Regions from separate parts of the Homo sapiens genome. Here all the other regions are linked to region 1. Evidence: fine-mapped expression QTL. A gene starts in region 1. Each other region holds a variant in brackets. All regions are shown on one strand. Distances are between the middles of the regions.

The links. PIP is the estimated chance that this variant, and not a neighbour inherited with it, causes the effect. A credible set is the group of variants that fine-mapping cannot tell apart.
Region 2: its variant is the best candidate, but not a certain one, in a credible set for the expression of NAMPT in whole blood (TOPMed, PIP 0.55).
Region 3: its variant is the best candidate, but not a certain one, in a credible set for the expression of NAMPT in whole blood (TOPMed, PIP 0.64).

The regions. Positions count from the first base shown.
Region 1 is chr7:106,281,818-106,290,005 of GRCh38, forward strand. NAMPT (nicotinamide phosphoribosyltransferase) reads right to left here and starts at 3,166. Exons shown (of 11, transcript NM_005746.3): 1 at 3,011-3,166. The coding sequence starts at 3,067. It overlaps NAMPT-AS1 (NAMPT antisense RNA 1), which reads left to right and starts at 3,429. Exons shown (of 1, transcript NR_186647.1): 1 at 3,429-4,509. RefSeq lists silencers at 2,496-2,855, 3,126-3,665.
Region 2 is chr7:106,341,349-106,349,536 of GRCh38, forward strand. No RefSeq gene overlaps it. Among named protein-coding and RNA genes, the nearest start is that of NAMPT-AS1, 60 kb to the left of the region's middle. RefSeq lists an enhancer at 4,789-5,988. The variant C/A (reference allele first, on the strand shown) is at 4,321.
Region 3 is chr7:106,311,086-106,319,273 of GRCh38, forward strand. It overlaps the pseudogene LARP1BP2. Among named protein-coding and RNA genes, the nearest start is that of NAMPT-AS1, 30 kb to the left of the region's middle. RefSeq lists a silencer at 2,349-2,488. The variant C/T (reference allele first, on the strand shown) is at 3,219.

The sequences.
Region 1 (8,188 bases):
TTAAAACCTCTTGCATGGAGTTTCTAATGACTTGTATCTCTTTTGCCACACCTTTAAACCAGATTTCATTAACTCACAACGAGAACACCAGCTCAATTATTAATGACCTAAATTAATCTCCCTATGAAGTATATTCATGATTTATATATTTTATTTATGGTGCTCAAGTTTTTCCTATATAACAAAACATAATGGAAAAATTGAAATATATGTACAATGTCACATATATCTTTATGAATGCATAGGCAGTCTCTGGGGTACAAGCTGCAACAGTACCCCACTCATGAGGCTCAGGTTGACTCAGGAGCCACCGTGACAATACCGAAGCATCCGCTCAGAAGCAGTGAAAGACAAGCAACAAAAATTTGTTACTTGGCCATTAGAGGAAGCAAAATTTTCTTTTTTTTTGAAAAAAAGCTGCCTTGAATTCCTAATCACCATATATAAATTTCACAGCTCTTTGAAACTTCTATAAAATCAACTTCTGTCCCTCCTGGATTTCAAAATACTACTTATCTTTGTCTTCTTTTATAATACCCAATAGGTCACCAACATTTATTAAATGAATGGTTAAAAATATGCTGAATTCTAGATAACCAGCTTACAGATGACCCTTTGAGAAGCAACCTACACCGGACAGCACATTTCATAACTAATGGATAATGCGGTTTAAACGGTGTCCTTACTTCTAACAAGAACCACGATGAAAATAGAGGAACCACAGTCGTCAGTGTCCTTAATTCCTTACTATATACAATAAAGTATGAGTTTACAGAAGTGAATGTATATACTTCAAATGCTCCTTTGGTCCAAATAGTTCTGGACTCTCTTGACAGGATACAAGACAAAACAAAACTCCCATTGTCATGTGCTTGCTACCATACCATCTACTTGCAAAATAACTTTCGTAGTGCTTAGGCAATCAATTATTCTTTCTTCAGTTTTAGAAAGAAGAAATCAACAATATTTTGCTCTCTTCATCAACACATCTGAAACTACTAGAGTTCCCAACTTTGGCCAATAGTTTGTAAGCACTGATAAGGATATGTAACATTCTCGTGTAATTTCTAAATAAGTTTCATTACTTCTAACCTCAAGATTATCATTTTTGTCCTTTTTCCTAAGATAAAAAGACAAAAATGTAAAATAGGTTATAAGGACCCCTAAAAACATAAGGGAAATGAAACCTAAGACTTAAATGTGACTGTGGAATACACAATCTATTTTAGCATACTGCGGTAAGCCACTGGTATAAAACATATCGACTTGATTGAACCCTCTAGAGGTGACTTTTGGGGAAAAAATGAAAAATCTAAGATGAAAATATTCTGAAGTTTCATATTATAAAGGATATAAAACACACCAGTCTGACTTGAAAGTTGACAGAAGTAAAATTTATTAAATAGGTGCAAATTCTAATAGTGCAATTAAGTATGGCTCACTAGATTAGAAACCTTTAAGATAATTCACTATTCTAACTAAAAGCACCCCAGAAAACTGATGTTAAAGTAATTTTACATTCCTTATGTATAATGGTTAGAGGAACTGCAAACTAAAGGAAGTTGCATTCTTCTGTTTTTAAAATTTAGACTATTCAACCTCCCTTTACATTTGGCTAACATGTAAAAAAAAAATCTGACAGTTATTTTAGATTTAGTTAAGAAAAAAATTCTACAAAACTATCAATGAGGCTATTCTAAAATCACTATTTAAAATTTTGAAAACACTATGATTGAACCAAGAGAACACAAGAGGAGGTTTTAGGACCAAGTAAAGGACCATACTTGAGGTATTATCACGTATACTTGACAATATTCAAGAATCATACTTGATAGTGTTCGGATTTTGCAATACTTTAAACTTGCATCTAAAAGACAACTTGTTGATGGATCTTGGCTCGATTTCAAGAACCTATCTAAATATCATAAACAGCATTTTAAGCTGATTGGAAAAAAACAGACAAAACTTAAGTAAAATGGAATTCTCTAAAATACTTTCTCGGAATATCGGAGGAGGGCTAAAAACAAAGGAAAAAAAAAGAATCAAAACAAAAACATGAGAGTACTATGTTTTACCACTGTATTCCAAACCACTATGCTGCTCAAGTAAAATTTACTTTACCTCTTCCCTTCACTACTGCGTGCTTCATATCAACTGAATGTGGCAGCTACCCACACAAGTGTTCAATGGGCATGTGAACGCAACGCTGTGCCATTTCCCTCTCCACATGTTCTCTAGGGTTAAAACTACAGTTCCTTTAAATCCTCGTGTTTCATTTTCCTTTTCACAGAAATCCTGTAATGACCCTAAAGCAGATAAGAGCAGAGCGGCCTCTACACCCAGGGATAAGGAGCACGAGCAATCACTAGGTGCCAAGGAGTTTGAAACGGAGCCCGGCGGAGTGGGACAGGGGAATCCACTACGGCTACCGGGGCCAGGCGAGTGTCCTCCGCGCCGGAGCCGCAGAGGACCGCGGCTGCTCCGGCGCCCGCGCCAGGACTTCTCCCACCTCGCGCCCCGGGAGACTTACCTGCCCAGCCAGGGGCGAGCGCGCCGGGCTGGCCCGGGGGAAAGCCCCGCTCACTCTCCACTGCGGGTCCCCGGGGCCGTTACCTAACTGGTCCCAGCTCCAGGCCAAGAGGCCGCGCTTCAGGGAAGGGCATGCGCTCGCCGGCGACGCCCAAGCCCCGAGCCCCGAGCCCCGAGCACCGGCGCCCGGGAGTCCGCTGGGGCCCGCCTCAGCCCCCCGCCGCGCCGCCGCCGCCGCGCGCCCCCAGGCCCCGCCTCCACCGCCCAGCCCTCCATCCTCCTCAAGCCACCTCCTGCCCACTGCGGCGCCTCCTCACCTGCCCCAGCCGCCGCCGCCCGCGCCTCCCCCGGGCCTCCCCGCGCCGCGACCCTAGCCCCAGCCCCAGCCCCAACCCCAGCCCCAGCCGCCCCCGCCCCCCTGCCGCGCGCTCGTCCCCAGCGCGCCCCGCTCCTCCTCATCTGCCCGGGCCCCGAGCTTTACCTTGTAGGAGTCGGTGGCCAGGAGGATGTTGAACTCGGCTTCTGCCGCAGGATTCATCTCGGGCCGGAGGACAGGGGCCGCGCGCCGCGAGCTCCCTGGCGCGGCTGCGAGGAAGGAGAAAAATGAGCTTCACCGCGCTCCGTTGCTTAAGTCACTGCTCGGTCGGCGGAGGAGGGGGAGAGGGGGAAACGGAGAGAGGGGAGGGGTCAGAGGAGGGCGGGCCCGGGAGCCGTGACGCGGCGCGGGTGACGGCTGCGGCGGCTCGCGTGCTCGCAGTCTGGGAGCTCTGGCGGACTCCCCACCTCGGTTCCCCCGCCTTCACCCCGTCACCCTCCGGGGGCCGAGAAAGGGCGGGGCGCGGCAGCGCGCTGCGCAGTGCGCGGAGGCGGGGCGGGGAGGAGGACGTGATGCACGCGCTCTTCCTCCCAGACGCCAGCTCTGGGAAGCTGGAGGCAGCGGGGCAGCCCCGGCGCGTGACCCGGGCGCTTACCTAAGTTCGAGTTCCCGGCACGGGCGCGGGAGGGCGGGGCCTGGAGGGGGCGTTCCCAGCTTTGCCAGTGCCACGAGGAGCCGGTTCGCCCGCCCCGCCTGGGACCTTCCGTCCTACCCAGTCCTGGCCGGTTTTCTGGGTCCTCCTGAAGTCACGCCACCCGGCTAGGGGGCGAGGAGCCTCCTACTGCCCATCTTCCCGTCCACCACGCGCAGTTACTCACCTTTGTCTCCGGCCTGGATTAAGGATCCAGCCTTTCGCCTCCATCCCTCTTGTCCCTCCTGATCCTCCTGACCCTGTCTTTAAGATCCCAGGAGCTGCGGTGAGGAGTGAGGCTGAGGGGCCCCTTTCATCTGATGCAGCGACTCCGCTTTCCTCCGGCGGCTCTGTCTATGGCTGAGCTCTTTGATCCTTTGAGAGATGGTTTGACTTTTCCCGAGCAAAGAGCCTGCGTTGAAAAGCGGGGGTGGAATTCAGTCCTCACAGATAATGAGGGGACAAGACCTAATTGAACCGAGTATTGCCGGGAAGGAAAAGGCAACGGGCCAAGCCTTTGACAGGGTGCGACACTGACTTTTATCATCGTTATAGTCTTTAAATCCTGGGAAACGAGTTGGCAACCCCAAAATAAAGAAGTGTAATGACGTCTGATGACTTCACCCAAATACAGACCATTCCAAGAAAGACTTGCGCAGTTCTCATGCGTGGTTGCGTTTTTGCATAAAACTAAGATTCCCTTTGTCCGCATGTTTAATAGCTTAAAAATAAATTGAGGTTTTTATCGGATAAAAGTAGCCAGGAAAAAGTGATACAGTGAAAACGATTACAGGATATTTATAGACTTGTCTTTCAAGTTATTAGAAGTCTCATTCTATCTGGGGGCAGTGATGGTGGTGGTGGTAGTGGAACTTGTGAATTGAGATTCATAGTGGAACTTGTGAATTGAGATTCATCTCGAAACTGGAGGCATGGCTGAGACTTCTAATAAAGACAACCTCAGTCAACACTATGTCTTGAAGTCAGTATATATTTTTGACAATCACCTCATCTACACGTAGATACAATACAGGGCAAAGATCATGGAAGTGGAAGGTATCACCAGGCACTCACCAATGTAGTAAATACTAGTACACTTACAATTATTTTCAGCAACGAGGTTTGAAACAAGAGGGCTTATGTATTTATTGGTTGATCTTCCCTGTGTTTTACCGGGGAAAATTATTTGTAAACGCATTTAAACAAATTATTATTTCTATTTTGAGACGGAGTCTCGCTCTGTCGCCCAGGCTGGAGTGCAGTGGCTGGATCTCGGCTCACTGCAAGCTCCGCCTCCCTGGTTCACGCCATCCTCCTGCCTCAGTCTCCCAAGCAGCTGGGACTACAGGCGCCCGCCACCACGCCCGGCTAATTTTTTGTATTTTTAGTAGAGATGGGGTTTCACCGTCTTAGCCAGGATGGTCTCGATCTCCTGACCTCGTGATCCTCCCGCCTCGGCCTCCCAAAGTGCTGGGATTACAGACGTGAGCCACCGCGCCCGGCCTAAACAAATTATTTTTTAATATTTGATTTTGGGAGTTTTTTTATATTATTTCAAGGAGTGCAATTCAAAGAAGGAAAAAGATAATTTTTGTCCTTAATTTGGTGTTTTTTCCTTCATTTAAAATTTATATAACCTACTTTACTTATAGTACAAATTCTTATTTGTTTAGCTTCCTGGAATTCATGTATCTATAAATGACCGTTGTTCTATGCTGCTTTATGCAGAAAAGAAAGTAGGATTCTGATTATAATGTGGGCTTTGTTTATGGTAGTATTTTTTTAAGATGCAAAATTTGATCTTGCAATCTTTGAGTTGAATTTGCAGTTTTAAAATAAAAAGGTCTTATATCTGTGCAAAGAAAAAATATTGTATTGACATTGCTTGTTAAATTAAGGAGTGAGGCCTGCACAAGTATTAGTAATGTGAATCCTCACAGTAGTCTCCAGAGAAAAAAAATGACAATGAAGTCATGTTACCAATAGGACAATCACCATTTGCCTGAGATAGAAATAGGCACATTCTCTATGTAACTACATGCTTAAGCTGGAGCAATTCAGAATTAATTGGGGTTTAGAACTATGAAATTATCACTGAAAACAGAGCCAAGATTTCATTTTAAAATGGCCTCCCCTGAAAGACAGTTTAACAGCTAGCATTAAGGTTGGACGTGGTGGCTCACACCTGTAATCCCAGCACTTTGGGAGGCTGAGGCGGGCTGATCACTTGAGCCCAGGATTTTGAGACCAGCCTGGGCAACATGGTGAAAACCCATCTCTACAAAAAATACAAAAATTAGCTGGACGTGGTGGCATGTGCCTGTAGTCCCAGCTTCTCTGAAAGGAGACTGACGTGGGAGGATTGCCTGAGCCCGGGGAGGTTGTAGCATGTAGAGGACCTGAGAAACTGTTTTTCATAGGTCACAACAACATGACAAATAATAACACATAGACTCAAATGGGCCCCCTCACTTGATTCAAAGCCCTGGATTATTATACCATCCTACCAAATAGCAATCAGGCACTGCCAATTGGGCATGCAGCTCCTTGTCTCCCTCCCTCAGAGTGCTATGAAAGACCTAGGGCTCATATATTTGTTCAGGCAAAGTGAGTGTATCTGTGCCACTCCTGTTGCCACACACCCTTGCAGACAGCCTCGGGTGCACCTTTATATTTCAAAGTTGCCTCAGATACTCCAATCTGACCTGATTTGACCTCAGTAAAAAACACTGGTGAAGTAGGTATGGAACTCACCTACCTGCAACCCCTGACGATGGTCTTATCCATCTCCCTTTATAATCTCCTCTAGACTCGCCAATTAGCAACAGTTGTCACAAAGACAAATGTGAAAAAGAGAGCTTTTAAAAATTAAACTTGGACTTTTTTTCTTATTCAAACTTCCAAGGCCCTTTGGGAACCTCCCAGAGTTTTAATTTCCTAGGGAAAGGCCTCATCCACAGAAAGACACGGTCTTCACAGATTCAATGATTTATCAGTGTTACACTCTGTAATGACTCAGTCGGCTAAGCCTGTACAATCACACAAAGAGAGGCACAGGAAACTATGGAGTCCTCGTCTAAATGTACAAAAATGATAGAGCAACTGTCATCCACACACAGTAAGAATGAGTGCACATATATAGACTATCCACAGACATTCCATTGCAAAATGTAATTATGCCCTTTCTATGGTGTCTTTGTGGTCTGACTGTGCTGCACTCTCCTAACCGGCAATGCTGAGTCGATCATCTATCTGACTTGAAACTGTCTTCAAATTTCACACAGGACGTCTATCGCAATCTATGTTTGCTGCATGGCAAGTCTCGATTTTCCCGTCTCTATTAGTTGTGTTTTTGTTTTCCATTATATTCAAGCATACATTTTTCTAATTCCAACCAAATTCAATGGGAAATAAAGATAAACAAAAATAAAAGGTTTAAATTCACCTTTAAAAGTAAGGTAAACATGCACATTATGATGCCACATGTGGGGATTCCAATGTCATCATTACTTACAAATTTTGCTAATGGCCCAAATTTAAGAGTTGCTAGCCCATATCAATGACTGAGAGAATAAGACCGTTTGAAGTATATAGGAATGTCAAGAGCTTTGAAATCAGTGTTTTCCTAAGTGAGGTCTGCTTATCATTGATGTACATGAAATAACTATCAATGGTACTAAGATACATGTTTTTGTCTTTAATAATTATGTACTTATCTTAAATGAGTTTTGTTTTGTTTGTTTTTTGAGATGGAGTCTCGCTCTATCACCCAGGCTGGAGTGCTGTGGTCCGATCTCAGCTCACTGCAACCTCTACTTCTCAGGTTCAAGTGATTCTCGTGCCTCAGTCTCTTGAGTAGCTGGGACTACAGGCATGTACCACTATGCTTGGCTAACTTTTATATTTTTAGTAGAGAAGGGGTTTCACCATGCTGGCCAGGCTGGTCTTGAACTCTTGACCTCAAGTGATCTGCCCACCTTGGCCTCCCAAAATGCTAGGATTACAGGCATAAGCCACTGCCTTTGGCCTCTAATGAGTATTTAAAAATGTAACTAGCACATAAAACCTGATTTTTTGTGGGAGGGGTATTATTACTTAGGATGAAGCTGAAGGAGGTGGGCACTCAGACTGGTGAACTTTCTATTTCTTTTTCTTACCTTTCCCTAACCTATATGCTGTTTTCACATCCTCCATATAAGACTGGTTTTCTTGAGGAAGCTGAACATGAAAGGCTATATGTCTGATTCCATTTATTTGAAATTCTGGAAAGGGCAAAGTTATAATGAAAGAGAGCAGATCAGTGGTTGTCAGAGACTGGGATTATGAGAAGCAGAATGACTGCAAGCAGGTCTGAGGAAACTTCTTGGGGTGATGAGAATGATATATGTGGTTATACGACTGTATACATTTGTCAAAATTCACTGAATTCTAAGCTTAAAGTTGGTGAATAGCATATAAATTAGATCTTAATAAAACTGAACTAAAAAAGACTGATTTTCTTGTAATCATTTTAAATATTTTCCCCTCTTCTCCCATTTTGTTTCCTCTGTTTCCATTCTTACCTTGTGTTGTTACCATGTTGCTTTACGTGATAGGGGATGAGCACCATTTTTGCCCTCCTCCAAGGAAGGACAGTTCTTGAAGTTGCTGAA
Region 2 (8,188 bases), 60 kb after region 1:
TTATAGGCTCAACAAGCAAGATGGCTGCATGCAAGCATGCCTTCTGCAGCCATGGCCTGAGCTCTATGTTGGCCCCTTTCAGCCATGGCTGGAGTGGCTGGGATGCAGGGCACCAAGTCCCCAGGATGCACACAGCACAGGGACACTGGGCTTGGCCCATGAAATGATTTTTTACTCCTAGGTCTCCATGCCTGTGATGGGAGGGGCTGCTGTGAAGACCTCTGACATGCCCTGGAGACATTTTCCCCAGGGTCTTGAGGATTAACATTCGGCTCCTTGTTACTTATGCAAATTTCTGCAGCCGGCTTGAATTTCTCAGAGAAATTGGATTTTCTTGTCTATTGCATTTTCAGGCTGCAAATTTTCTTAACTCTTATGCTCTGCTTCCCTTATAAAACTTAATGCATTTAACAGCACCCAAGTGACCTCTTGAATGCTTTGTTGCTTAGAAATTTCTTCTGCCAGATACTCTAAATCATCTCTCTGAAGTTCAAAGTTCCACCAATCTCTACAGCAGGGGCAAAATGCCACCAGTCTATTTGCTAAAACATAGCTAGAGTCACCTTTCCTCCAGTTCCCAACAAGTTCCTAATTTCCATCTGAAACCACCTCAACCTGAGCTTTTTTGTCCATATCACTATCAGCATTATGGGCAAGGTCATTCAACAAGTCTCTAGGAAGTTCCAAACTTTCCCACATTTTCCTGTCTTTTCCTGAGCCCTCCAAACTGTTTCAACCTCTGCCTGTTACACAGTTCCAAAGTTGCTTCCACATCTTCACGTATCTTTTCAGCAGTGCCCCACTCCTGGTACCAATTTACTATATTAGTCTGTTCTTACACTGCTGATAAAGACATACTCAAGATTGGGCAATTTACAAAAGACGGAGAGGTTTAATGGACTTACAGTTCCACGTGGCTGGGGAGGGCTCACAGTCATAGTGGAAGGCAAGGAGGAGCAAGTCATGTCTTACATGGATGGCAGCAGGCAAAGTGAGAGCTTGTGCAGGGAAACTCCCCCTTATAAAACTATCAGATTTCATGAGACTTACTATCACAAGAAGAGCACAACAAAGACCTGCCCCCATGATTCAATTACCTCCCACTGGGTCCTTCCCACAACACATGGGAATTCAAGATGTGATTTGGGTGGGGACACAGTCAAACCATATTACACATGGATCCTAGAAGAGAAGAGGTTTTGTTTTTCTCCTGTAAATCTCTATAACAAACATTCCTGAGAGCATAAGTATCTACCTCCTGAAGTTCCCATTAAATCTTTTAACCAAATTCATTTCCTCTCTCCTAGAGACCATCAAGCTTCAGATGATCATGTGACAAAGGTTCCAGTCAGTTCCAGGTGAAGACACCACCCCTGGTCATTAAGGAGCTACCCTGTCTCCATTAGACAGAGCAGGACAAGAGTTCTGTGATCCACAATGGGTAGGGACTACACCCTGAGCCAGCATGAAGCAGTTACAGAAGAAAGACCGTCAGTCCCTCTGCCTCCCATAAAGATTTATGGGGATCACATCTTTTGGGGGGAAATAAGACAGGAGAATAGGGCCTGGAGGCAGGGAACCTAAGGACTTATTAGAACTAAATCAAAGGAAAACACTTCAGTGATGACAGGAAATATCCTCTTCATTTACATAGGGCATACACCTAGTAAATGACTTTGTAACTTGAATTCATCCTCTTCATTTACATAGGGTTTACACCAAGTAACCAGTGAAAATCTCTAGAGGGTATTTAAGCCCCAGAAAATTCTGTAATCGCACTGTTGAGACCCTATGCTTGCTCCTGCTCCCACCCTGTGGAGTGTACTTTCATTTTAAAAAAATCTCTGCTTTTGTTGCTTCATTGTTTCCTTGCTTTGTTTGTGTATTTTGTCCAATTCTTTGTTCAAGACACTAAGAATCTGGACACCCTCCAGTGGTAACAATTTGCAAGCTCGATTGGAGGTGGAGTGGCTTCAAAATTGGCTTAGTCACATGGCTGGCAAGTTGGTGCTTGCTATTGGTGGGAGGCTTTCACTATTTCTCATGGGTTCTTCTCCAATGGGCTGCTTGAGCTTCCCTCCAGTATGGTAGCTGGCTTCCCAGAAAGAGTGGTCCAGCAGAACAAAGCAACAGCTGTGGTGACTTTTATGACCTATCCTCAGAAGTTAAACATGGTCTTCTCCATCAAGTGGTTGCACAGACCACCTCTGATTCAATGTAGGAGGAGACTTCAGATGATCACGAATAGTAAGAGGTGAAGATCATGCAGGCATCCTAGAGCCTGACTGTGACAGGGTAGTATATGCCTATATTCCTCCCTCAATATTTTCCTGTTTTCCTACTCTGCCTGTTTGGCAAGGACACAGTGGCTCCTAACCTCTCTACTCTTAATCTCTTCATTGTGTTTTCTTGATATTTCTCAAGATTCCTACATATATTGAGTCATACAGAATGTAAAACCAACAGTTTTTAAAATTAATCAATTTTAGCAGTTTTTAAGCTTTCAGAGCTGTCCACTTCATCCTAACACTTTAGGAGTTGGTGGCCATCCCATGATCTCCTTCACGTTTATGTAATGTTCTATCTGCCTGCTCACAGTCTGTATCTCATCCTGGAGAGTCCTTATTTGTAAAGCATATCTGTCTTCTTGTACTTATCCTTCTGGTCTCTTCATGGATCTACTACCCTTTCTAGTGCTTTACCTATGTCATCACAAAGATTCCAGAATGAAGTCTCCTTCCTTCAAGATGGCAACCCTGGAGCATGGTTTTATTTGAGCCTGAGCTGGAATTGCAAAATTAGGCAGCTTGGCAGGAGAAAGCTAGAGCCAGGCATCAGTGGACCCCAACCTCTGAAGAAACCAACGCTTTTACAAACAGCTCCCTTCTGTAATGTCATGGGAGAGTAATTTTTTGCTTTTATAGGGTTTCTTCAGACAGAAGTACCACACAAAGATTATACAAGGATCTATGCTTTTCCATGTGGGGGTTTGATACATTAATGAGAATTTGACAAATCCTGACCACTCTGCCATCTGTGGGCCTCATTCTGTTCCTACTTCTGTGATGCTTTCCATCTGTTCTGAGACAGAGGAACTCGTTCCACTGACATAGGCAATACTCCTAACCCTACCAGCTGTCTTACAAGGGTGTGTTGCTGCTCACTGGAGAAAATGAAAGAAAAGGTATATATTCAACAAAAATCCTGCCAGAAACAATTCACATTCTTCCGTACAGGTAGCTTACAAAGGGGCACAATATGGGATGGGTTTATATTAATCATATCTCATACTTTTCATGAGGTTATGTCATCTTACTGCTCAGAAACCTCCAATAGCTCTCACGACTTAATCAAACTCCTTATCTTAGCATTGTAGGCCTTCCGGCTGTCATTCAGGCTTCATGGCACTTTATTAATACAATATTCCTTTCCCTTCCCCGCTACATGTCACCTATACTTTAGCCAAATGGGACCACATACTATTGTTCTAACCTGCTCCATAAATTTCTGCCTCCATGCTTTTAGAAATTGTATTCTCTGCATTCTAAATGTTTTCCTGTCATGTTGACCATAGAAGTGCTTCCCTTCCCTGAGATCTGTGGTAAGTGCTACCTCACTTATGACACCCTTCCTGATTTCCTCTATCTAGTGATCTCACTTCCCCATGGACTCTGAGAGCACTTTAGTGGTAACGTGTTTATAGACTTACCACATTCTTCCGGATATTTGAGCTGTTACTGTAACAGAGTCACGATGCTTACTTCCGCACTTGATGTTTTCCAAAATATTGATGGCTGAGAGTGAGAACAATCTGTTTTAATTCTGCCAGTGATTATTAAATTTATCTTTGAAGAAGGGTAGATCTTTGAGTTTTGGAGAAGAATAAGACTTAAGGGAGTTTTAGATTATACAAATGAAAGATAATCTTTTGGAATACAGAGACTCTGGTCCAATGTTTCTCAATTTGGTTTCCACAAAACCTTAAAGTTCAATATGTCATCACTAGGGGTTTGTAAGAGATTTTGATTTAAAACCTAGACATCAACTTTCGAAGTTTGCATACTTTGAGGATAGATAGTGGCTAAGCAGACATGTCAGCAATTTCATTCGGGGTCTTTCAGCCCCATTGTGGCAGTGTGCAATAGGATTGTATTTGTTTGTGCCCAGTTTGGTTTATGATGCAAGCTATGGGAGGTTACTGGTAACTGATGAGTGCTATATTGCACAGACGAGAGGGGTGGTAAATGGATGACATGAGTTTTTCCTTCTCTAACTATTTCCCCTAAACTCCCCTTATGCACTACAGGATGACTCACAGGA[C/A]CAAACAAGCTTTGCTAGTATAACTAAAAATGAGGGGAAATTTAATTTTCATTCTAAAGGCTCAGCTGCACCCTGCCCCACCTCCTGCCCCCAGTTTTGTTGTGGTTACAAACATGGCAAAACATAGGTTGAAAAAGACTAAAAGTGATTTCTCCAGTGATTGATGAGTTTGGGGGGATTTTTAAATTTTACTATGCTCTTATGTTTTACACTTAACTCATGTTTGTATTTTATAAACATGTTTGATAACCCAATGTGGTAATTTTTGAAGGTGAGATGTGAGATGGAAGAGGAAAATTTTAGGCCTGGGGATAACCCTGATAAGGGTAGTGATGATGAATTATAACCTTCTGAGTCATTTTCCTGTGTGATTGGAACAAAGGACACAGAAAAAGTCCATCTTTATGATGAAAGACCCTTACCAAGGAGCTTCTATAGGCTGATTATCCAAATTTTCTTATTTTATTGAGAATCATCCATGTGAGGAGGCCAGCAAGATTTTTCTGTAAAGAGGCAGGTGGCAAATATTTTAGGTTTTTCAGATCACATGTAGTCTCTGTCACATATTCTTCTTTGTCTTTGTCTGCTTGTTTAAATGCTTTAAAAATGTAAAAGCCAATCTTAGCCCTGAGGGCTGTACCAAAGCAGGCCTCTGGTGAGGTTCGGCCCATGGGCTGTCATTTGCCAATCCCTGCTATGTCAAACAACTTAGAGATGTGGGAATGGCTCCAATAAAAAAAAAAAAAGAAAACCCAAACAAAACAAAAACCCTTAAATATAAGTCATAGGTATTCGAGAAGTAAAGATGCTGATTACTTTAAGCAGCTATTAGAATCTTAAAACAAACAGTAACTCTTGTTAAAAACACACAAACACACAAACAAACAAGAAACAGGTACATTCAGTGAAAAGGACCAGGGAGCAAGTTATTTAGTAGCAGAACTTACTGTCTTAAACAGGAAAAGTCACACAGTTGGTAAGGCTAACAATGTGATCATGTAAAATTACTGTGAATCAAAGGCTAGGAAAAGATGCACTACAAGAAACTGAAAAGGTTCCACAGCCTCAAACAGTGTCATATGGTGAAGTATTGATGACACGTCACACAACTTTGAAGAGGTTTTGTGACATACCCTGAAAAACCGCAGCTTCCTTTTCTAGGTTGATGAGTCAGGGGATTTCACCAATAAATGTCATACTTAGCATTTGTAAGATTTGCAAGTAATTGTGAAATTCAAGAAAACAAAGAGTGGCCCATAACAAGGAAAGGCCAAGATATAATTAATGTTTGGCCTTCATATCTATAAACAAAAGGTCTAAGAACTACATTGACATGAACACTGATAGTGCTCTGTCAAATTTGGTTCTATGAGAGCTTTTGCATCTTATTAAATGAAAAAAGTTTCTCACATTTTCACAACACATTGGCTTCTTCAAAGAGAATGTCAAACATTCTTGGAGATGAAATGAAAGTTTTAGATAATATTACAAAATGGCTATCTTTGTTATATAAAGGCTAACTTGAGAATACTTTTAAAACTGAAAAGGTGTCGATAAAGGCCACAGAAATATCCTGCTATACACAGAAATTTGGTGGCTCAGCAGAGGAAGCATTTTCAACAGGGTGTTTGAGCTAAAAGATGAAATTCAAAAGTACTTTCAATATCATACTGGGCAAGTTTCGTTAAGTGTTTTGATGAACAATGGCTACAAAAAGTTGCCTTCTCAGCGGACATTTTTCATTATGTGAACAAGTCTCTGCAAGGCCCTGGAGAAAATGTTTTGACTTTGAGTGACAAGATTCTTGAATTTAAAAGGTAACTGAGAGGGACTTCCGATTCAAGTGATGATGGAATAAGACCCTTGTGAAAAATTCCCTTGCAGTAAAACAACTATAAAACCTAAACATAAAGCAAAAAGCAACTACTTGAAGGCACTAGAGAGAGAACAGAAGCAGAAAGACATTGGCAAAGAATAAATATTTGGAAGAGGAAGCAGTATGAAGTAAGTGCCCTGTGTCTGTGGCTTCTAGCCTTGGTCTCAGTGCAACCCACTGAGTGTGCACAGTGGCAGTGTGGTAGAAGCATCAGTAGAAAACCCACCATCTCTCTGGTAGGGGAATCCATGGCTGATGGAGAGAGTTGGAGAATTCCCAAAGAGAAAGAAACAGAGAGCAAATCCCCAAAATTTTGTCTAATGATTTCTCTGACTGATTCCTGAATGACATATGCATGAAACAGACCAAAGGCAGTTCAACTAAAGACAAATGATCTGAACTGAGACTAGAGTTAAGATGCAAGAAACAAAGTTGCATAAGCCAAAGAAAACCACTTGTTAGAGAAGCAATAAAATCAATAATCTGCACAGCTTGATATTCATAAAGTCCAGGGTAAATCCAAAATTTCCCAACAAAAAAGAACCAAGAAAAATGGAATGTATCAAGAAAAGAAGATCAATTGAGACCCTCAGATAAGATGTTAGATACAACAGACAAGGATTTTTAAACAGCTATTATAATGATATTCAATGAAACAAAACAAAATATGAGCTCAATAAATAAAGAAAAATTGAAAATTCAACAGAGAAAAGCAGACAAAACTAAATTGAAATTCCAGGACTAAAAAATGTAATATCTGATCTAAAACAATCACTGAAGAGAACAGCTGAGTGGAAGTGACAGAGGCAGGAGTAAGTGAAGTGAAAAATAGATAAATAGTAATTGTTCCATGTGACAAACAGGGAGAAAAAAAATTGGAAAAAAACCTACAGAGTGCAGGGACTTGGTACAAAAATATTAAATGTTCCAATATATGTGTAATTGGAGTCCTAGGAGAAGAGATTAAAAAAATAGAAAAAAGATGATTAAAAATGGCCCCCCAAATCTCCCAAATTTGATAAGACAGAAATTTACAAATAAATATGCTCAAAGGACATCAGGTAAAAGAAACATAAGCAATCCCACATCAAGGTACATCATGGTCCAACTGTTTAAAGCCAAAGATTGAGAAAAGTCTTCAGACTATCAACAGAAAACACCATATATAATAGAACGATTATTTAATTAACAGCTGAGTTTTCATCATAAACCACGGAGAACTGAGTGGTAAAATATCTTTAAGGTGCTGAAAGAAAAAAAAAAAACATCAACCCAGATTCTATATCCAGATAAAATATTCTTCAAGAACAAAGGCAAAATAAAGATATTTTCTGATGAAAGAAGCCTAGAAGTATTCATTACAAGCAGACCTGCACTAAAAGAAATGGCCAAGGAAGTTCCTCAGGCTAAAGGTAAATGATACCAGATGATATTAGTATCTCCATAAAAAGAAGAAATAACATAAAAAATTATAAATACAAAATAATTTTTGTCTTTGATTTTTCCTCTTAACTTCTTTATGTGACTCACATAACTCTTCAAAGAGAAACTATAACAGTATCTTCTATGATTTATAACAAACATAGATGTAACAGATATAATAATTATAACATGAATCATGAAGGGCTTATGGAACCAATGGCTTCCAGGTTTTTCTAATTTACTTGAGTAGTACATTATTAAATGTAAATGGTAAAGTTAAGGATTATATTGCACTCATAAATTAATTACTAAAATAATAATACAAATAAGGATAGCCAATTATTTCAAGATGGAGCAACAAGGACTGAATATATCCTCTTGCCTGAAACAACTAAAAAATAAGAAAAAAATATGAATATTAAGGCATTGGGTATCAGACAATAAAATACAGTGAGATGGTAAACAAATGAAATAGCCTATCATTGCCCCAGCTTACTGCCTTGACAAGAGTTTTCAGGCATGGTGTAGGGAGGAGAAGCCAGGCAGAACCTGGATGCCTCCCTGCGTGGA
Region 3 (8,188 bases), 29 kb after region 1:
GGGTAGCCACGCTGCACACATCAGCTTCTTCTAACCCTGCTTTCAAGTGCACATTTAAATTAGTGGCTCAGTTGTGAAGTAGGCAACACAGATTTCCAGGCTCCCCATTCTGCGTCATTTTCCCCTTTCTTTCTGGCTTCTCCCCCATATCAAGCTTCCAAGGTCTTTTTGTTTGGAAACATACCAATGCTACCCAAAGGATGTTTTTTTCAATTATTTATATTTGATCTGAAGGTCCATTCTAGTAAGGATAAGTCCTCACATTAAATGCATACAATTTGCCTGTGGGACTTTGGTATGGTTATGGCTGTCATACATTCTCCCTTCTTAGCCCAGTGTGGGTGTGCCCAGACTCCACTACTGGTTGCTGATAGAGCACCATTCTCTTTCTCAATTTAAAGCAATTAAAGAGCCCATTTCTACCCAGCACCACTCTGGTGTTGTGGCCCAGTCTATGACCCTTAATCCTATTTTACCAATAGGTGAAACCACAATAATAGCTAGCATTTTCTCAGTGCTTTACATTTATTAATTTATATATTACTTATACAAGTTATATGTAACTTACACTTGGTAGTTATACAAGGTAGATTCTATTATCCTAATTTTACAGGTGATAAAATTGAGGTACAGAAAGGCTACATACTTGTTTAAAGTCAGTAAGAGGTGGTAGGTTTCAAACCCACTCAATCTGGCTTCACAGTCCATATACTGGCACTCGATAAATGCCACATATCCTCTGGGCCAAGCTTAAATATCGCCCTTTCGGTTCTTTTTCTGCCTTATACGATGGGACAAATCTCTACCCTCTGCACCCTCATTAACCTGTACATGCCTCTATAGTAGTCCTCATCTCATTGCACAGGGTTATTTTACAAGAATGCTTTCTAGTTAGATGTGCCTTGAAGGTGAGACCATGCTTCCTTTTGGTATCTCAGTACAGTGCATGGCAGGCTATATAAATTCTACAAATGTTGGCTGAATAAATCAAACTTTTCCTGGTTCCTTCCGCATCCTTCAAAACTCCTATTCTATATCTCTTTCTAATAGGTTGCTGTATGATTTGTACATTTTTTCTTTAAATCAATGCATCAGTATCAATGGCTGATTAGAGTTCAAGTTTTGATGGGGAACTTTAATGCCTTAATAGGATATAATAGCTAAGGGTGGGAGGTTTAGGCACTGTGATACAATGGCAGGGGAGAGATTCGTCATCAGCTGGTATGAGCCTGAGGCTAAAATCTTACCTTGTAACTGGCTATTCGTTCTGTCCATTCTTAGGGCATAACTTGGTTACAATAACTGGAAGTTAGTGAATTTATTTCCTTTTCGTAAAATGAGAGATTTGAACCAAATGATGTCAGTGTTCCTCTTCAGCTCAAAATTCTGTATTTGTAGGAAATTATAGAAGTAAATAAATATATTTTGAGAAGCTGATAAAAATAGGTGGAATTAATGCAGGAGTTTCTAGGAAATTGTATAAAATGTTAGTGGTAAAAGTGTCATCTGAAACTACTTGGAAAGAAATGTATTTACAGAGTTAGGTATGTGCAAAATTAAATATTTACAAGGCTATGTGTAAGCATTAAAGTAAAAACATGGTTCCGAATATGGTAAGGATGAAGAACTTGATTTCATAATAAATACTGAATTACTATACTTCCTTCTTGGGAACACCAGCCAAGGGTTAGAAATTTTAAGGATAAAGCCATTTTAAAAATTATTGCTAGAAAGTTTTCATTTTACAAAAATTACCTAATTTGCTGTTCATACCAAGATAGAGTTTGTGTTTATATAAACAACATAAATTTAAATTAGATTTTTAAAAAAGTTCTTAATTGGTAGTGTAAGGTCCCCTCTGTGCATCTTCTAAGTGGTTTACATGGAAATATTCTTGAAAAAGCCCAAATAGATGAATAGTTGCCACAGCCTTGCAGTGCTATGCAATTCAAGTTTTAAGAAGATTTGAAAAAAGATAGGGTGGGAGAAGGAAACAGACATTCATTAAGTATGTCGACCAGTCATGTTCCAAGCATTGTGCTGGGTAGTTTACATATGCTGTTCCATTTAACATGCACAGTCACTTTGCCTGGTGTTTATACCATCCCCACTTAAAAATTTAGAGACTAAGTCTGTTCCTTCTTCCTAATGCTACTGTTTATTTCCTTTCTTTTCTCTTGAACACGGGCATTTTATGTTTTTAGGACAAGTTATTCTAAATAATAAAAAGAGCAACAACCGCTGTTTATTGGGCATTTTCTATGTACTAGGCATTGTGACAAACATTTTACAAAAATTTCATAATTTACTCTTTATACCAATCCTTTGAGGTGGGGATTACTTCACAAGAACAGAGAGATTAGATACCTTGTGCTGAATTACATGTCTAGCAAGCAGTGGAGTGGGGTTTGAAACTGGAACCATTGACTCCAGCCGCTCTACACTAGTGTCTCTGTGGTTTCCATGTGGTCCACTCAATACTGTGATGAGCTGGTTCACAGGAATGTCAATAAGAAAGAAAAATAATGATGTAAATAACAAAGTATGTCATGAAAACCATTTAATGTTGGTTAATTAAATTATACAACATCTGTGGAGCTGGAAAAGAAAAATTTCAGGTTTTACAAATAGTGCCTAATAAAACAATTGAAAACACAGTAAGCATGATTTTATCAGAGTTGAAAGTACACAAAGTGCACACAAAAATTCAGAAGTACCTTTAGTCCACGTTGTATTTTCTTCCTGTTTAGTCACTTCCTTTAGGGAAATATTGACAAATCCCTTACAGCCCCCCATTTAAAACAGTTTAACCAGTAGATTCTTGAAATTCTGAACAGGGTCTTTAGTGATTAATTAATTGAATGCTTTTTATATTCGATTCTTATTCTCTCTGTGAGGCACAGCTCTAATGTTTATAAACCTAACTTTGTTCAACCCCCAATAAAGATAGGTTGGCCTAGTATACACGGAAATAGGATGTCTTACATTGAAAGTGCCTTTATTATGTACATTTTATGCTGTTCTTTTCTTTCAATTTCTCTTTCTCCAGCTTTTCTCTTATACAGTTCCTTAAACTTACTTCTCCATTCTTCTTTCTGGTTTTTCTCAAATCTTTGTTCACTTCCTCAAAAATAAAACTGAAGTCATTCTCCAAGGGTTCTTTCTGGTCCTGTGTCTGTACTTCCACCTTAGAGTCAGTAGTCTCTTATGTAAGTTTC[C/T]GTATCCTGACTCTAACTTCCCTGAACAAGCTCTTAACTTTCTCCTTTCTCTCTCTCCTTTTCTTATTTTTTTTTTGTTGTTATCAATTGTCTTTGATAGAAGTTTGTCTTTTTAAAAAACATTTTTATTCCACTCTCCTTGTCCTTTAATTGCTTCTGCCCATTTGGTTGGCAAGACTGAATAGCCCATTTCTGCTTCTCGTTTTCTGTATGCTTCAAATTAAAGAAAGTGTTAATTTTAAACCTGATCCCCTTTCTGTCAATCTCCTCTTCTCCCAAGAATGGAGGCTTGGCTTCTATTGGCTTATGGTACCCTTGTTTCTTCCTGGGTGATTATAGAATAATGGGCATCAGATTGACCTGGAGAATTTTCCCATATGTCTGATCTTCCCATTTCTTTTACATCTACTCTGATATCCTGGGAATAGGGTGGTATAGGGGGTGAACAGCAGACACAAGGTTTTTTTGACAAAGCTCCATGTGATTTTCCTGCTGAGACCTTCTCTCTTCCAGCCTACCACTGATTGGGATCCTCTACTCCAGAAGCTCCTACTTCCTGGGTAAGACATAGATACATGTGTTTAAGGCAGGATTCTGCCAGTTGATGAATGAGCCATCAGTTTAGCAAGCAGTGAGCGGAGTGCTTTAGGGGGCAAGATGTGAGTGGTGCATGAAAGGGATCATATGCCTCTTTTCCATTTGCTACCAGGAAATTCATGTAGGGTTGAGCCAAGATTCATTCTATTATTAAGTTGGTGCAAATGTAATTGCGGTTTTTGTTATTAAAAAAATGGCAAAAATTACAATTACTTTGCATTAACTGAATACAATCAATAGTAATTCTTCATACTGCATTTCTGCATACTTACTTAAATTTCAAGTGAAAAACACACACACAAAATGTTGTTCTGAGTTCACATAGCCTTTGGTTTGCATACAGAGTCTGCCCTAAATTCTCCAAGAATTGGAAGTCCACTGCGTCCAAAGAAATATACTGAAACAAATAATCTTCAGGCAATGCCTAGAGATGTGTCTACCAGTTTCTCTGACTTGGACTAGAGCCTTGGATAAAAGTAAAAAAGAGACATTGTCCATTTCCAGTGAAATTGAAGGACTCAACACCAGTATCTGATGATGTATCAAGTCAACTATATCCTCCAGAAGAACAGGAAGAACTTGATTTTTTATTTGATGAACAGACGCAACAAATAGAAGAAAAAGAAACACATTTACTGATTGGTCTCGTAATGATTCAGATTATGAAATTGATGAGCTGAATTTCAACAAGATGTTGATTTGAACTCAGCTATCATTTTACCTGAGAAAACATCCTGGATAAGATCAAACAGGCAACCACAGGTTTCAGGCAAAAATGGCCTATGTCATTATGAATAAGACTTGTGGATGGAAGAGGATGAAAACAAACATACAGCCATAAAGAAATCGACACGCTGATCTAAAATTCACATGGAAATCCAAGGGAACCAGAATAGCCAAAATAATCTTGAAAAAAATGAATGAAGTTGAAAGACTCGTACCTCCTGATTTTAAAACTTACTATAAAGTTAAAGTTATCAAGACAGTGTGGTACTGGCATAAAAACAGACATATAGGTCAGTGGAACAGAATTAAGAGTCCAGAAACAAACCATGTGGTCAACTGATTTTTTACAAGGATGCTAAGACTATTTAATGGGACAGAAGACTGTAGTCTTTTCAACAAATGGTGCTGGGACAACTGGATAGCCACAAACAAAAGAATGAAATTGGATTCTTACCACACACAATATACAAAAATTAATTCAAAGTGGATGAAACACCTAACTCAAAGAGCCTAAAACTATAATACTCTTAGAAGAAAACATAGGCATAAGTCTTTTTGAACTTGGTTAAAACATTTATGACACCAAAAGCACAAATGACAAAAGAAAAAAATGGATTAGATTTCATAAAAATTTAAAATTTTCAGCCAGGTGGTGGCTCATGCCTGTAATTCCAACACTTTCCGAGGCAGGGGGATCACTTGAGCCCAGGAGTTCAAGACAAGCCTGGGCAACATGGAGAAACCTCATCTCTACAAAAAAATTTAAAAATTAGCTGGGTGTAGTGGTGTGTACCTGTAGTCCCAGGTACTCAGGAGGCTGAGGTGGGAGGATCAATTGAGCCCACGTGGTCAAGGCTGCAGTGAGCTATTATCATGCTGCTGCGCTCCAGCCTGGGTGACAGAGAGAGACCCTGTCTCAAAGAAAATACAAATTAAAAACTTTCGTACTTCAAAAGACACCATCAAGAAAGTGAAAAGGCAACCCAAGAATGCGAGAAAATATTTGCAAGTCATGTCTGATAAGGGAATTAAATGCATAAACAACTTTTACAACTCAATAATAAAAAGACAAATAACTCAATTTAAAAATGGGCAAATAATCTGAATAGATATTTCTCAAAAGGAGATTTACAAGTGAACAATAGCACATGAAAAGATGTTTGGCATCATTAGCCACCAGGGGAGTACAAATAGAAACCACAATGAGATACCACACTACCTAGCACTGGCTGGCATAGCTATAATCAAAATGACAGATACTAACAAGTTTTGGCAAGGATGGAAAGAAATTGAAACACTCATAACCTGGTGGTGGGAATGTAAAATGGAAAACAGTCTGGCAGTTCCTCAGAAGGCTAAACATAGTTATCCAGCACCTCTTATCATAGGTATATACCCAAGAGAAATGAAAATATGTGTCTAAACAAAAACTTGTACATGAATATTCTTAGCAGCATTGTGAAAGTGGAAAGAACTCCAATGTATACCAACTGATGAATGGATAATTAAAATGTGGTATATCCATGTAATGGAATATTATTTGGCAATAAAAACAAATGAAGTACTGATACATACTACAACATGAAAACCATATGCTAAGTGAAAGAAGCCACTCACAAAGGACAACTTATTGTATGATTCCATTTATATGAAATGCCCAGAATAAGGCAAGCCATAGAGACATAGAGCTGGTGGTGGGGAGCAGGCAGAGAGGAAATGGGGAATCAATGCTAAGGTTTCTTTTTTGTGGTGATGAAAATGTTCAAAATTGATTATGTTGATGGTTACACAGCCCTGCTTATACACTAAGAACCCCACGGAATTGAATACTTTAAATGGATAAATTATATCATATTTGAATCGTATCTTAATAAAGCTGCTACAAAAATTTTTTAAATTGCTGTTATGTTTATATAGAATAAGTCCCATAAAAATGTTCTGAAGACATTTTTCTGTGTAGAATATTAAGCCAATACTAGTGACAGCAGGCTGATGCCAAAATATTCATATATATTAAACTAGAATGCTGGAGAAAGCTTAAGGAAAAAGGTACATTAAACAGAGTAGAATTGAAAACTACCTCTTCTCTCTGGTTTCACATAAAGTTTCTATCCTCAGCATGCTGTATGAATTATAAGAAATCAGAAGTAAAGAGTAGAAATGCTATTCCATGTGGTTTGGGGTGAAGAAAATAAACTTTTGCATCAAACACGTGTTCAAATACTAACTCAGTTTATTGTGGGGCAATAAATGACAAAGTTATTTACCTAATGGTAGGGCAATGGTTGAGGAAAACTGTTGAACTGTTTCCCATACATAGTCTGGGGATATGTGGGTATTTTGTTTGTATGTTTTTTGTCTGGCTAGTGTCCTTTTATCCTTCTTTTGTACCAGAATCTAGAAATATCCTTGGGAGAAACATCTTTCTCCTTCTGTCAGTTCCTGTACTTTGGTGAACTTGAATTCCTTCCTGCTTTTCCATGTAGGTGCCTGTAGCCTGGATGATCAGCACATTCCGAGGTTTAGGGATGGGGCCAAATCAAATGTAGCCAGTAGGATTAATCTTATGGCCTTTGTTTGATTGTGAAAGTGGACTTCCCTCTGCTGCTGTGGGTGAGCTCGAATCTGACAGGACAAATGTCTGGAGTTCTCGGACTTCCTGCCCAACTCATGAAGTCTGAGCGTGTGGCCAGTGCTGTTGTGAGAGAGCGGAAACATGCAAAGGTCCTGGGTCCTAGGGACATCATTATGGCCCTTGTTAAAGGCACAACAGCATGAGCCCTGGACTTTCAGTTATAAGCCGAGACTTTTGCTTTCAAGCTTAAATAAGTATTGGAAATTACCTGTACCCAAATGAATCCAAAGGTAACATTACTTGCTGTTCCAGTTACTATGGCTTGTAGCAAATGGACCCAAAACTTCATGGTTTAACACAAGAACACATCTATTTTGCTCACAAATCAGCAATCTGGGTGGGGATTGGAGTGGCTCATTTCTGCTCTATTCAGCGTTAGTTGTGGCTGGAAGCTGGGGCTGGACTCATCTGGAGGTTTACTCCCTTACATCTGGTGCCTGGGCTGGGACAGCTCAAACAGCTGGGACTGGAGAAGTTGGGGCTCCATGGGTCTCTCTCTACATAGTCTGCCCATGTGCTCTCTCCAGTATGGCAGCTTCAGAGTGGCTGGATTTCCTACATGTCAGCTGAGGGCCCCCAGGGCACGTGTCCCAAGGGAGGAGAGCAGGGGAGAAGCTCTATCATCTTTTTTGTCTTGCCCTCAGAAGTCATGGAGAATCACATACACCATAGTCCCAGGCCCACCCAGATTGGAGAGGAGCAAACGTGGACCCCACGTTTTGATGGAAGAGTGTCAACATCATACTACAGGAATTTATGGATTGGGATATACTGGCATAGCCATTTTTGAAAATACAATTGGCCACACACTATGAGGTATTTGTAAAGATTAAATAAAAATTTTGTCATGAGACTATCCTGCAAAAATATGATATAGAGCTGGAGACCCAAATGGGCTGAGAGACTCTAAGGAGACTGTGTGAACTGGAAAAAATTATCTGGCCAAGCCAGGGAAATGCTAGTGAGGAGAGATCAAAGAGGGAGTTGAGTGGAGAAAAGCAATACCCAAGTT